Homo sapiens: one gene and its partners. The protein of the gene in region 2 purifies or fractionates together with the protein of the main gene of each other region. This does not show direct contact. Each region holds a gene or a part of one and is shown on either strand. Other genes may lie near its edges. The genes, in order: COPG2, ANO7 and ALDH18A1.

What was found.
Region 1: the proteins of ANO7 (region 2) and COPG2 purify together in Homo sapiens (affinity purification with mass spectrometry, with the first as the bait; one large-scale study listed by BioGRID). This does not show direct contact.
Region 3: the proteins of ANO7 (region 2) and ALDH18A1 purify together in Homo sapiens (affinity purification with mass spectrometry, with the first as the bait; one large-scale study listed by BioGRID). This does not show direct contact.

The regions. Positions count from the first base shown.
Region 1 is NC_000007.14:130,550,194-130,553,843, forward strand, and holds part of COPG2 (coatomer subunit gamma-2), read right to left. Parts: intron 2,238-3,650; coding exon 2,162-2,237; intron 1,152-2,161; coding exon 1,048-1,151; intron 457-1,047; coding exon 331-456; intron 1-330. UniProt on the Homo sapiens protein: The coatomer is a cytosolic protein complex that binds to dilysine motifs and reversibly associates with Golgi non-clathrin-coated vesicles, which further mediate biosynthetic protein transport from the ER, via the Golgi up to the trans Golgi network.
Region 2 is NC_000002.12:241,187,158-241,190,907, forward strand, and holds the start of ANO7 (anoctamin-7), read left to right. Parts: upstream 1-1,519; 5' UTR 1,520-1,571; coding exon of another isoform or gene 1,572-1,609; intron 1,610-2,899; coding exon of another isoform or gene 2,900-2,906; coding exon 2,907-3,014; intron 3,015-3,038; exon of another isoform or gene 3,039-3,264; intron 3,265-3,750. UniProt on the Homo sapiens protein: Has calcium-dependent phospholipid scramblase activity; scrambles phosphatidylserine, phosphatidylcholine and galactosylceramide. Does not exhibit calcium-activated chloride channel (CaCC) activity. May play a role in cell-cell interactions.
Region 3 is NC_000010.11:95,605,441-95,608,726, forward strand, and holds the end of ALDH18A1 (delta-1-pyrroline-5-carboxylate synthase), read right to left. Parts: intron 1,504-3,286; coding exon 1,322-1,503; 3' UTR 501-1,321; downstream 1-500. UniProt on the Homo sapiens protein: Bifunctional enzyme that converts glutamate to glutamate 5-semialdehyde, an intermediate in the biosynthesis of proline, ornithine and arginine.

The DNA of each region.
Region 1 (3,650 bases), on a different chromosome or scaffold from region 2:
TGAGGTCAGGAGTTCAAGACCAACCTGGCCAACATGGTGAAATCCAGTCTCTACTAAAAATAGAAAAATTAGCCAGGTGTGGTGGCGCATGCCTGTAATCCCAGCTACTCGGAAGGCTGAGGAAGGAGACTCGCTTGAACCCGGGAGGTAGAGGTTGCAGTGACTAGAGATCGCGCCACTGTGCTCCAGCCTGTGCGACGGGAGTGAGACTCTATCTCAAAAAAAAAAAAAAAAAAAAAGAGTGACAATTAAATGAGTATTAGAGAAAATATGCTAATATTTTTTAGTTTTGCAAAACTACTTATACACAGAAAAATGAATAGAGTGAACCTGCTTTCTGTTCAAAGACAGGAGCCATAGCAAGAGGAATTGATTTCATGTCAAACGGTTTTTCTGAAGGCTCCAACGTGTACTGGTGTAAGGCTTTTTCCATCCCTGGTACAGAGACCGTCAAACCTGTGAAACATAGAGAAATCTCAGCATTATAACCTCTTGCCAATCCTCGAATCCAAATAGGCCCAGGTTTGTAATATTTATCTAAGCTTTCTGAAGGAAGAGAAAAATATAACCAAAAGCTTTATAACCTAAATATAAAAATAAAGGATATTCTTGAAATTACCTTATAAACTTATAAACTGACTTATTTCATTCAAGGAAACATGGGAGCATAGCATACACATTTTCAACAAAATGTATGTACCTCCCAGAAAAGAAAGCAACTTAGCTATATGGGAACAATGATAGCATAAGAAAACGGGAAAAATGTAAACCCATCCAAGAGGGAGTTCAAGGAGAACCAGGAATAAGTGAGCAACGTTCCTAAAAAATGTAAGGGCCCAATCTATATTCTTATAGATTGCTGCATAGGAATTATCATTACCAAATTAGAAAATATCCTATAAACACAGGTTTCTCTAGAAATGGAAGTGCACTCAAAGACAAAAACCAAGCATTTGCCTAGTGAAGTTAGCTCATATGCAAATCATAAAATATGCTTCCAAGACACCATTTGAGGAACAAAAGTGTACATCCTTGGCTTTCACTGACCATTAAAGATATATGTGGCATTTAGTGCCATCTGCCTCTGCTGCAGCACATTCAGATAGAAGGTAGCTCTGTCTCGTACCTCGTCATCAGTATCCATCATACACCTGTCCAGGGGAAACAGAATAGTCATGTCACAGTACCCCAAAGACTTCCAATAGCTCTACTACCAAATCTAAAGGACACAGCTCAGGTCGTCATCTGATACTACCTTTAAAAAAGTGCTCAACAATAGCCAACAGTGGCTCCTAAAGTCTTCACAAATCTTGGGTACTGCTCTGAATTACTAAAGAAATACTGCTACTGTGAATCACAAGCACTACATAAGTAGGCATTAAAATAACGAGGAGCACAAGAACATGAAATAGCAGTCTGGAGTCTTTTCTTCCATCTGTAACTACATGACCCTGTTGAAGACTTAGACTTCTCTGTAATTAGGAAATGGGAGTATTATACTCTCCAAGGATACTGAAAAGATAAATTCAAAATCCAGCCACTGTTTTTGCTCAAATGACAATTTGTTTTACGTAAACTAGCCAACCTTTGGCTTGTAATTTATCTGCTTCAATTATAAGATGCAATCACAGTTTGCTAAAGCAAGTCTTTTCCTCATCAAATAGAGTCATGAAGACAATGAAAAACTATTATTTTTAACTCTGCATAGTGAATTACCTAACAGTTTTTTTAAGTAAGCCCCTGTTGTACAAATTGAGGCAAATGTATTTAAGTCACTTTCTCAAAATCATGTGAGAGAAAGCCAAAATCAAATGTGACATGTACCTAGCAAATAAAACCCTATGGAGAACTAATATTTTAGGGAATGGGGCTGGGAAGAGAAGCTCTATAAATAAGAGTGAGGAGTGATGGAAACATGTAGGCTATTGTGTAAACCAAGGCTAGGGGCTTTCATGAAGTGATCAGTCAATAGCACATCAAATTGATTGGGAGGTATACATAATTACTAAAAAGAGAAAGGAATTGCCATTTGCCCCTGACTTGCTCCAATAACTCTACTCTTAGGGCTTAGAGTGCATCCGCCCTATGGTAGAATGAGGATTTCACTGTTTAACCATATAGAATTCTTATTTTTTTTTAGAAAAGACATTATTTAACTTACCTCTGTAAGAGTACAAGGATGCTTGGGAGAAGACTCTCATTCTGAGCCCCAAATTTAGCCAAAGCACTCACAGCAGCTATAATGAAGCATACAATTATGGTACATAAATATTGGTTTCTCAGAGTTAACCAATAACCATTTGAAAAAAAATTAGAAAAGTGTCCCCATGTTCAGTGGAGATAAACTCCCTTGTTTTATTGAGTGTTTCTTGATCTTATTTCTTTGATACTGTTAAGCATAAATAGAATTCTGCAAGCCCAAGAGAGCTCTGAATAGGAAAATCTTCCAAAAATTGAGGAAAAAGATTCATATAGATTTTCTGTAGGAGCTATATCTCCACCCCACCACAACCCCTTATATATCACACTGATGTCATTAAGCTCTAATCTCAAACAACCAGCCCCAAGCATAAAAAGAAATTCTATTATTAAAATTCCTCTCATTCAACAAAGATTCATTGTTCACCAAACTTTTGTCAGGAATTGTGCTAGGTACTGGGACAGATAAAAGACATGTCCCTGATCTCAAGGAGCTACACTCTAGTGGGAAAGATAGGTATGTAGAGAGACAATTACAAGACATCATAGGTAAGTCCATGGAAGAAATATATCCAGGATGCTATGTGAATACACAGAAAGGAACTAAATCCGAATTGGTGGTGGAAAACTAAGACAAAGAGTTAATACATATTACTTGAGCTAAAATCTGAAGACCAAGTACTGTTAGCCAGAGGAAAAAGGCAGGATAAGAGTATTAGAGGCAGAGAAAATAACACGTTCGAATGGCCCCTGCCCAGAGAAGAAAGTGTGGTGTATTACTGGACAGTTGGGCAAGGCTGAGCAAAGGACCCATGTTGGAGAGCAAGAAGAGACAAGGGAGAGACTGGCAATAAAACAAAATTAGGGTATGGTTTAATCTCAACATTATTATTAAAGGATATTAAATATGAGATAAATTTGTACATTTGAAAGTCCCCCCCGCCTTTTCTTTTTTTTTTAGCAGAGTGTAAAGAATAGGCAGGATATATGTGAGTCTAGAAGCAGTCAGATAGCTAGGGATCTGAAACGGATGACAGCCTCAATCAGCACCAAGAAAATAGAAGAGAATGAAGAAATATTAAGGAGACACAATTGAAAGCGCTTTGCTAAAGAACAGATAGGGGCTGTAAGGCAGCAGAACAAGATTCTATCTTGATAACTGAGTGGATGATGAATGTGAGGTTAGTTTGAATTTCAGGTTGAGTTTGAAGTGCTTTAAGTTATTTGGACAAACAAGTTCAGGAAAGAGACATGACTGGAATGTCACAGCCTATTAGCAGAGCTCTGAAAATGATCACCAAGAGGAATGTAGATGTTGAGAAGTCAAAATCTTACAGAGAACTAATATTTTAAGGAATGGTGCTGGAAAGAGGAGCTCTGTAAATAAGAGTGAGGAGTGATGGAAACATGTAGGCTATTGTGGAAACCAAGGCTATGGGGTTTCACGAAGT
Region 2 (3,750 bases):
GGGAGATGGTGCCCCGCTCATCCTCCCTCCCCTCCTGCCTCCCGACTCCTTTCCTGGTTTCTGGAGCACTTCCCCAGTCCAGCCCTCGTCCAGGGATCCACCTCAGGCGCCTGCAGGCTGAGCTTGGCCAAGCAGAGACCTCTCATGCAGATGCCCTGAGGCCCAGGGCCCCAAGGTCCTGCCGCCCAGGCTCTGCTGGTGCTGACAGGGAACCCGGCCTGCAGGGCCTTCCCGCTGTTCCGAGGCACAACACAGGTCCAAGAACAGGGCCCCTTGGGAGGTGCCAAGCACAGAGGGGCATAGGTATAAGGGAAAGCTGCAGCCAGGATGAGGGTCCGCCTGGAGGGATTTCAACAGGCAGAAGGGGGCACCTGGAACAGCAAGCTGAGCTTGGGGCTCCCCAGTGCAGTTGTGCATGGAGGGCGAGGAGCACGGGTGGTAGGTTCTCAGACACTGCCAGGCACCAAGGAGGAAAGGGGGAGGGGGAGGGAGAGGGGAAGAGGAGGGGCGGGGAGAAAGGATAGGAGGAGAAGGAGGAGGAGAGGGAGAAGTGGGGGGAGGGGGAGAAACAGGAGGAGGGGAGTGGGGAGAAAGGAGGAGAAGGAAGAGGAGAGGGAGAAGTGGGGGGGAGGGGGAGAAACGATAGGAGGAGGGGGAGTGGGGAGAAAGAGGAGGAGGAGGAGGAGTTGGGGGGAGAAATGATAGGAGGAGAGGGAGAGGGGAGAACGGATAGGAGGAGAAGGAGAGGGAGGAGTAGGGGGGAGAAACAATAGGAGGAGAAGGAGGAGAGGGAAGGTGGGGAGAAAGGATAGGAGGAGGGGGAGAAAGGAGGAGGGGGAGGAGGGCTAGGAGGAGAAAGAGGAGGGCTAGGAGGAGAATGAGGACGAGGAGGAGGGCGGAAAGGATGGGAGGAAGGCTAGGACCCCTCCTGTCCTTTTGCAGATGGGGCCCTGAGCATGGGATGTGCCTGAGGTCACCCCTCAGGCATTAGCAGAGCCAGCAGTGTGATCTGGGTCTCCCAATCTCCCCAGCCCCCGGGTGAAACCCTGGCCCACCACTCAGCACATGCTACGTAACCTCAAGGAGCCTCAGTTTCCCCCCACATAAACAGAGCTTACGAGGTCTGCCTGGCAAGGCTTCCAGCAGAGGTGGCACTTGTGGCTGTTCCTGTGGAATCCCACCTCCTCGAGACCCTCCAAGGCAGCAACTATGACAGCTGATGCCAGCCCTGAAATCTCTAAGCAAATAAGGTTCCCAGGAGGACGGCAGCATTTGCATGCGGGTGTGTGAAAGCCCAGCCAAGTGGGCTGCCTCTGTCTGCAGCTCTGAGCCCCACACCCCCTATTTAAACAAAGATAGATCCTGCTCCAGGAGCCGGGAAGCCTTGCCCTGGCCAGCTGTGCTGGGCACCTCCCCTGCCTGCTTCCTGGCCCACTTGCAGGCAAGGTGAGGGCATGCGAATGGCTGCCACTGCCTGGGCGGGGCTCCAAGGGCCACCCCTCCCCACCCTCTGTCCCGCAGTGAGGACGGGACTCTACTGCCGAGACCAGGCTCACGCTGAGAGGTGGGCCATGACCTCCGAGACCTCTTCCGGAAGCCACTGTGCCAGGTGGGGACCCAGCCTAGACGTGTGGGCCACAGGGAGAAGGTGGAGCGTTGGACTCTAGGGAGGCAGGGCGGCACCCCAGCCCACCGGGACTTTCACACACCCTGGCCTGTGGGGAGGCAGTGCCAGGGCCCGCCCTGGTCCCCAAAGCCCCTTGGGGCACGAGGAGGGACACACACTCAGTGCGGCTCTGGACGGGGTACACCCAGCTGGGGTTGGCTTCCTGCCTGCCCAGGGGCTCCCCCATGGAGCAGGTCCCTTCGTTGGGGTGGGGGGCATCCCCATTCTTTCTGCAGAGAGCTCTGAGGAGGGGCCCGCCTGCCCACCACAGAAGGATGGGGGCATGAGGGGCTGCTGGGTGGCCGAAACTCCTCGGGGACTTTCCTCCAGGAACACCCCACAGTCCGTAGTGAGGCTCCCAGCCTGGGGCCGGGGCCGAGTCCTAACACTGAGACCTGGCTCGGGCTTCAGGGTTAGGCAGGTGCAGGCGGCCCAGGCTCAGTCTCTGTCCCTCTGGGCCTCCGCTAATGTGAAGTGAAGGGTAGAACTAGAAGGCTGCCCCTCCGACCTCCTGCGGCGCCTCCATGGTCACACCCTCCGGTCATCGTCGCAGCTCCAAATGCCAGCCCCAGCTCGAACCCTCTCCTTCCAGGGCCACAGATGTCGTGCTCCTGGCCCCGTTTTGCCAGCCCAAGACTAGGAGCCACGGCACCTGTCCTCCCACAGAGAGAGACCCCCGGGGCGAAGGTGCGGGAGGAAGCTGGGACCCCCAAGAGTTGTGAGGCCGGGCTCCATCAGGCCCGCCTTGCTGGGGAGCTCAGGGCCTATGGGTCCTGGCACTGGGTCCTCAGGCCATGAGCGAAGGCAGGCGACTTGAGGGGTTTCCTGTCCCTGGCTCACATGGCTCCACCCTACGGATAAGAGAGGGAGAGGTGTCTGTACTCCAGGCCCACCTTTCTGGGCCTTCTCAGGCTCCACTGAGTACCCAGGCAGAGTGGACGGCATTCAGGGCTGGGGGACACGGGCACTCACTGGATGGACAGACAGACGCCTGCTGTGCCAGGCCTGCCAGACGCTCCCGCCCCGGCACTGGTTTCTTCCTGGAGCTCGTGGCTGGCTAGGGGGTTCTCCATGTGCTCATGGCCAGGAGAGTCTGCCGAGCCAGCCCAGCCCCATTCTACTCCGAGTCGAGTCTGTAAAGTGAGCTCACTGCAGGCAGTGTGGTGGCCCCAGGAACGGGTCTCACCCATCCCCTCTCTGACCCCCATCCCCACCCGGCCTTGCTGGGTGCAGGAGCAGGATGCTGCGGCGACGGGCCCAGGAAGAGGACAGCACCGTCCTGATCGATGTGAGCCCCCCTGAGGCAGAGAAGAGGGGCTCTTACGGGAGCACAGCCCACGCCTCGGAGGTAACAGCACCCAGGAGACTGTGGTGCGACTTGAGAGGTCCTCCCCTGCCTGGGTCTATGCCCCCACCCTGGGCCCAGAGCCTCTGGGGGTGGATGGGCATCACCGTGTTTCTCCTGCATCCCCCGGCAACCCCCAAGCCCTCGCCACCCAGTCCTCAACACACACAGTCAGATCACCGCTCTCCTGGCCTGGCCTGGCTGTGGAGAACCGAGCAGAACCCACTGATGTTCAGACAGGAGCTCCAGGAGGGTAAGGGGGGCCTGGCCAGGCAAAGGCAAGACCAGGGCGGGGCCCTCCCTGTGGTGTCAGTCCCAGTCAGTGCAGGGCCACAGCAGCACCCAGGGCCATCTGTAGGGCTCCACCTTGTCACTAGGAGGCCATGGATGCGCTGTGAGCCTGTGGGGAGAGGCTGGGTCCCGGGCCTTCAAGGCCATGCGGGAGGCCCTGGCCGTGGAGGGCCCTCTTCCTGGTTCTCCTGGGCCACACGTCTGCCCCAGCAGCCTGCGGGTGGACACGGGACCCCTTCCTGCCGCCCCAAGCACAGCTGAGATGAGCCTCCAGGGAGGGCACAGGGCCTCTCACCTCAAGCATCCAGACACTCTCGGTCGCCATGGCCAACTCTGTCCTCAGGGCCCCTTTGGGAGCAGTCCGGCTCCCCTCTGCCCCTGGAGGCCAGCAAGGCAGGCACCCCTGGTCCTGGCCATGCTTCCCGCCAACCTGACCCTTGCCATGGGC
Region 3 (3,286 bases), on a different chromosome or scaffold from region 2:
AAGCGAGTGCTTATTTCTTTAGGAGGCCCCCATGAAATCTTTCAACTGCAGACTGTCAGGCACCAGGGGCCCTAAGGACAGGAGCTAGAGATGGAGGGAGAGTGGGGAGGGTCCGAGCTGTCAAGTGATCCTGAGGCAACAGGACTGGCAGGGAGGAGCTGGGGGGATGCAGTGAACTAAGGATGTCAGCTGGGGCTATGTGCCACCGCGGGAGCTCGCTCAGGTTGGACCCCACCAACTTCAGACCTTCACTGCACTTTTAGTCTTCAAGCTCTTGGGGCTTAATCTCCTGTTTTCCTTTCCTGTCTCTCCGTCTGAGTCCCTCTGTGGGGACTGCCTATGTTGCTTCCACCAACAAACACTGTTGAGGCAGATGTCTTGTCTCCCCAGACAGCTTCCAGAGAAGAGACCATGCCCACAAGCAGGGCACGAGGGTCACAAGAGAGGAAAAGGAAGGGGGTAACAACAATTAAGGGAGAAAACTTCAATCACGCACAGGCTTTTCATAAAAAACTTTATTTCTCAAAAAAGGGGGAAGAATCCAAAGTATTAAAATAATCCTCTAATTTTTGTTTTGGAGGAAAAGGGTAGGACGACAAAATAATTCATACAAAAATTTCAAGCATCACTGCTGTAGATATTCCTCCAGCTCAGTGGGGAACATCCTGAAACTTGCATCTCCTGCTGCAGCTTGGGTTCCAGCTGCATCACGGGGAACACAGCATCTCCTGGATGCAGGAAGCTGCAAGCATCTGGAATGCTTATTAATTTACCCCACAAATAAATACAAAAGGTCAATCTTCCCAGTGGAAATGATTCCATCGATTTTTGTGACTTTCTGATGAGAATGCTAAAAAGAAGAGTTGCCCCTTTTCTAAAATTCCAAATCTTTCCTTTTTGAAGATGACTACATGTGAAAGAAATAAAATGTGAAAAGATTTGTTAAGGATGACTGGCTCTAGTACCAACTAAATGCCAAGGGGGACTGTAAGTCACTGAGGTGACACAAAGCAGCCATGGGTTTTCCTCGCCTTTTTTATGGGGAAAATGCACCTTTCAATCCTAGAAGATAATTGGACTTGGCAAAGTCCCTATCGGTAGCAACTATTTTCTTACTTTAAAAAAAAAGGGTGAGCTGGGAGCCAGACTGTGCACATCAGCCAAGACTGCTATTGCCAAACGGAGCCCAGAAGCATCCAGGTACACTTTCCAACAGGCAGACCCTACCAGGAACTGGGAGACAAGAGCGGGCTCTCTCCTGAGATAAGACAAGTTTAACGTGAAGACCTTTTGGAAAATTCCCGGGTTTTCCTGGCTCTTTTCAGTTGGTGTTTCTCTGAGGAATAGGGAGGTTCTCATGAAGATATTTTAAACTTCCATGCTCTGAGAAATCTGAGACCACGTGGTCCTTCCCTCGCAGCAGCCACTTAGTAGTAAGCAGTCCCTCAAGTCCTACTGGTCCCCGGGCGTGGATTCTCGATGTACTGATTCCCACTTCAGCTCCTGTGAAAAAGCATGAATAAAAGATGTAGCTTTTCCCAGCCTCTGCTTCCTGTCCATGCCCCAGACCCACCCTGCTGCTTTCCCCTCACTTGGTACCCTCTCTTCCTGCTAACTCCTCATCCATCCTCCCCAGAAGAGCTGAGTCACCCTGTTCCCATAAACATGTTCTTCGATTACTACAAATCATGATACACTCCTTCTCGTGAAACAGTGTGTGGACTCTTCTTCTGTATTTTATCCCCAGTGCATTTTGACAATGCTATTAATACAAGTGCTGTCTCTTTTATCAGTTTAGCATCTGAATTGCATACCATATTTTGACATTTGGGCATGTTTTGAGGGGTACGACAATGTTTACCATGATGGTTTCACCTCCTCAAATACTCTTTAAATCTTAGAAAGAAAGGGACATGTTTGTGGTATCCCCTAGAAGTCTTAGCACAAGGGACTCATTAGACAGTTACTGAATACATCAAAGGGTTACTGTTCATTCCCTTTTCTCTTGCTCCCAGCTCAGACCTAGGGAACGTCAGGGGTTTTCCTGGCCCTGGCTTGGTGTTCTGCACTGTATACAGTGGAGGCAGGGTTCCCTCAATCATCACAACTTTACTGAGCATGTACTATGTACTAGGCACTGTGTTGAGCCCTGGGGATAAAGTGGTGAATAATAGATACAAGGCCCTGTTTTTGTGGCGCTGATATTATAGCAGGCGAGGCAGCCAAAGGACAGGTGAGTAAATAGTCTCCTGTGGTGCTCAAGTGCAGTGATGGGTGCTATGACAGAGGCTGTGTGGTGGAGCTGGGGACACGCTGGGTAGGATGGTCAGGGAAAGCCTCCCTAAGGAAGTGCCTTTTGGTTGGGACCTGAACAGTGAGAAGGAGCTGGCTGGAGAAAACCAGACAGAGGTGCTGCAGGCAGAGAGAAGAGCAAGTACGAGACACAGTAGGGGCGGGATGTGCTTGGGGTAGTGGTTGGCAAGGAGAGTGAAACCAGCAGGATTCAAATTCTGGTTCAATAGCATACAGACCACATGACTTTGGACATACTACCTAACTTTATGTCTCATGCCTCAGTTTCTTCATCTGGAAAATGAGAATTCATCTTGTAGAATGAAGTGAGAGCATGCTTGCGACACATTTAGCACAGTGCTGGGAATGTAGTAAATGCTCAGTAAAATCTGTTACTGTCATTAATGCATTTCACAAGGAATTTAACTCAACCAGCTTTCACTCTGAGCTGGTGTTGGAAGGACAATGAAATGATCTTTTGTTCTTCCTTCATCCTGGATTTTCATTTGAATGCTGGGTGCCCCAGCCCTTAAAAATATGTTGCTATTTCTTTTTCAAGTACATGGAGAGTATAAAGATCAATGCAAGTGATGTGATAATTACATCAAAATCCCAACATAATACAAATGGGGAACTAAAAATAAAGAGTATCATGATTAAGAATAACTGAGTTAAATTCCCTTTCATAACCTTTTAACAATTTGGTGAGAATTATTTCTCCAGGCAGATCATCTACTCAAAAAGTTCAGAAGGATTAAAATGTGTGTCTTTCTGTTTTGTTTTGTTATACAGATAGGGCCTCACTCTCTCCCAGGCTGGAGTACAATGGCATCATCTTAGCTCACTGCAGCCTCGAACTCCTGGGCTCAAGGGATCCTCTTGCCTCAGCCTCCTGAGTAACTGGGACTACAGGCTCACGCCACCACACCTGGATAATTTTTTCATCTCTGTAGAGAGGAGGTCTCGCTGCGTTGCCCAGGCTGGTCTCGAACTC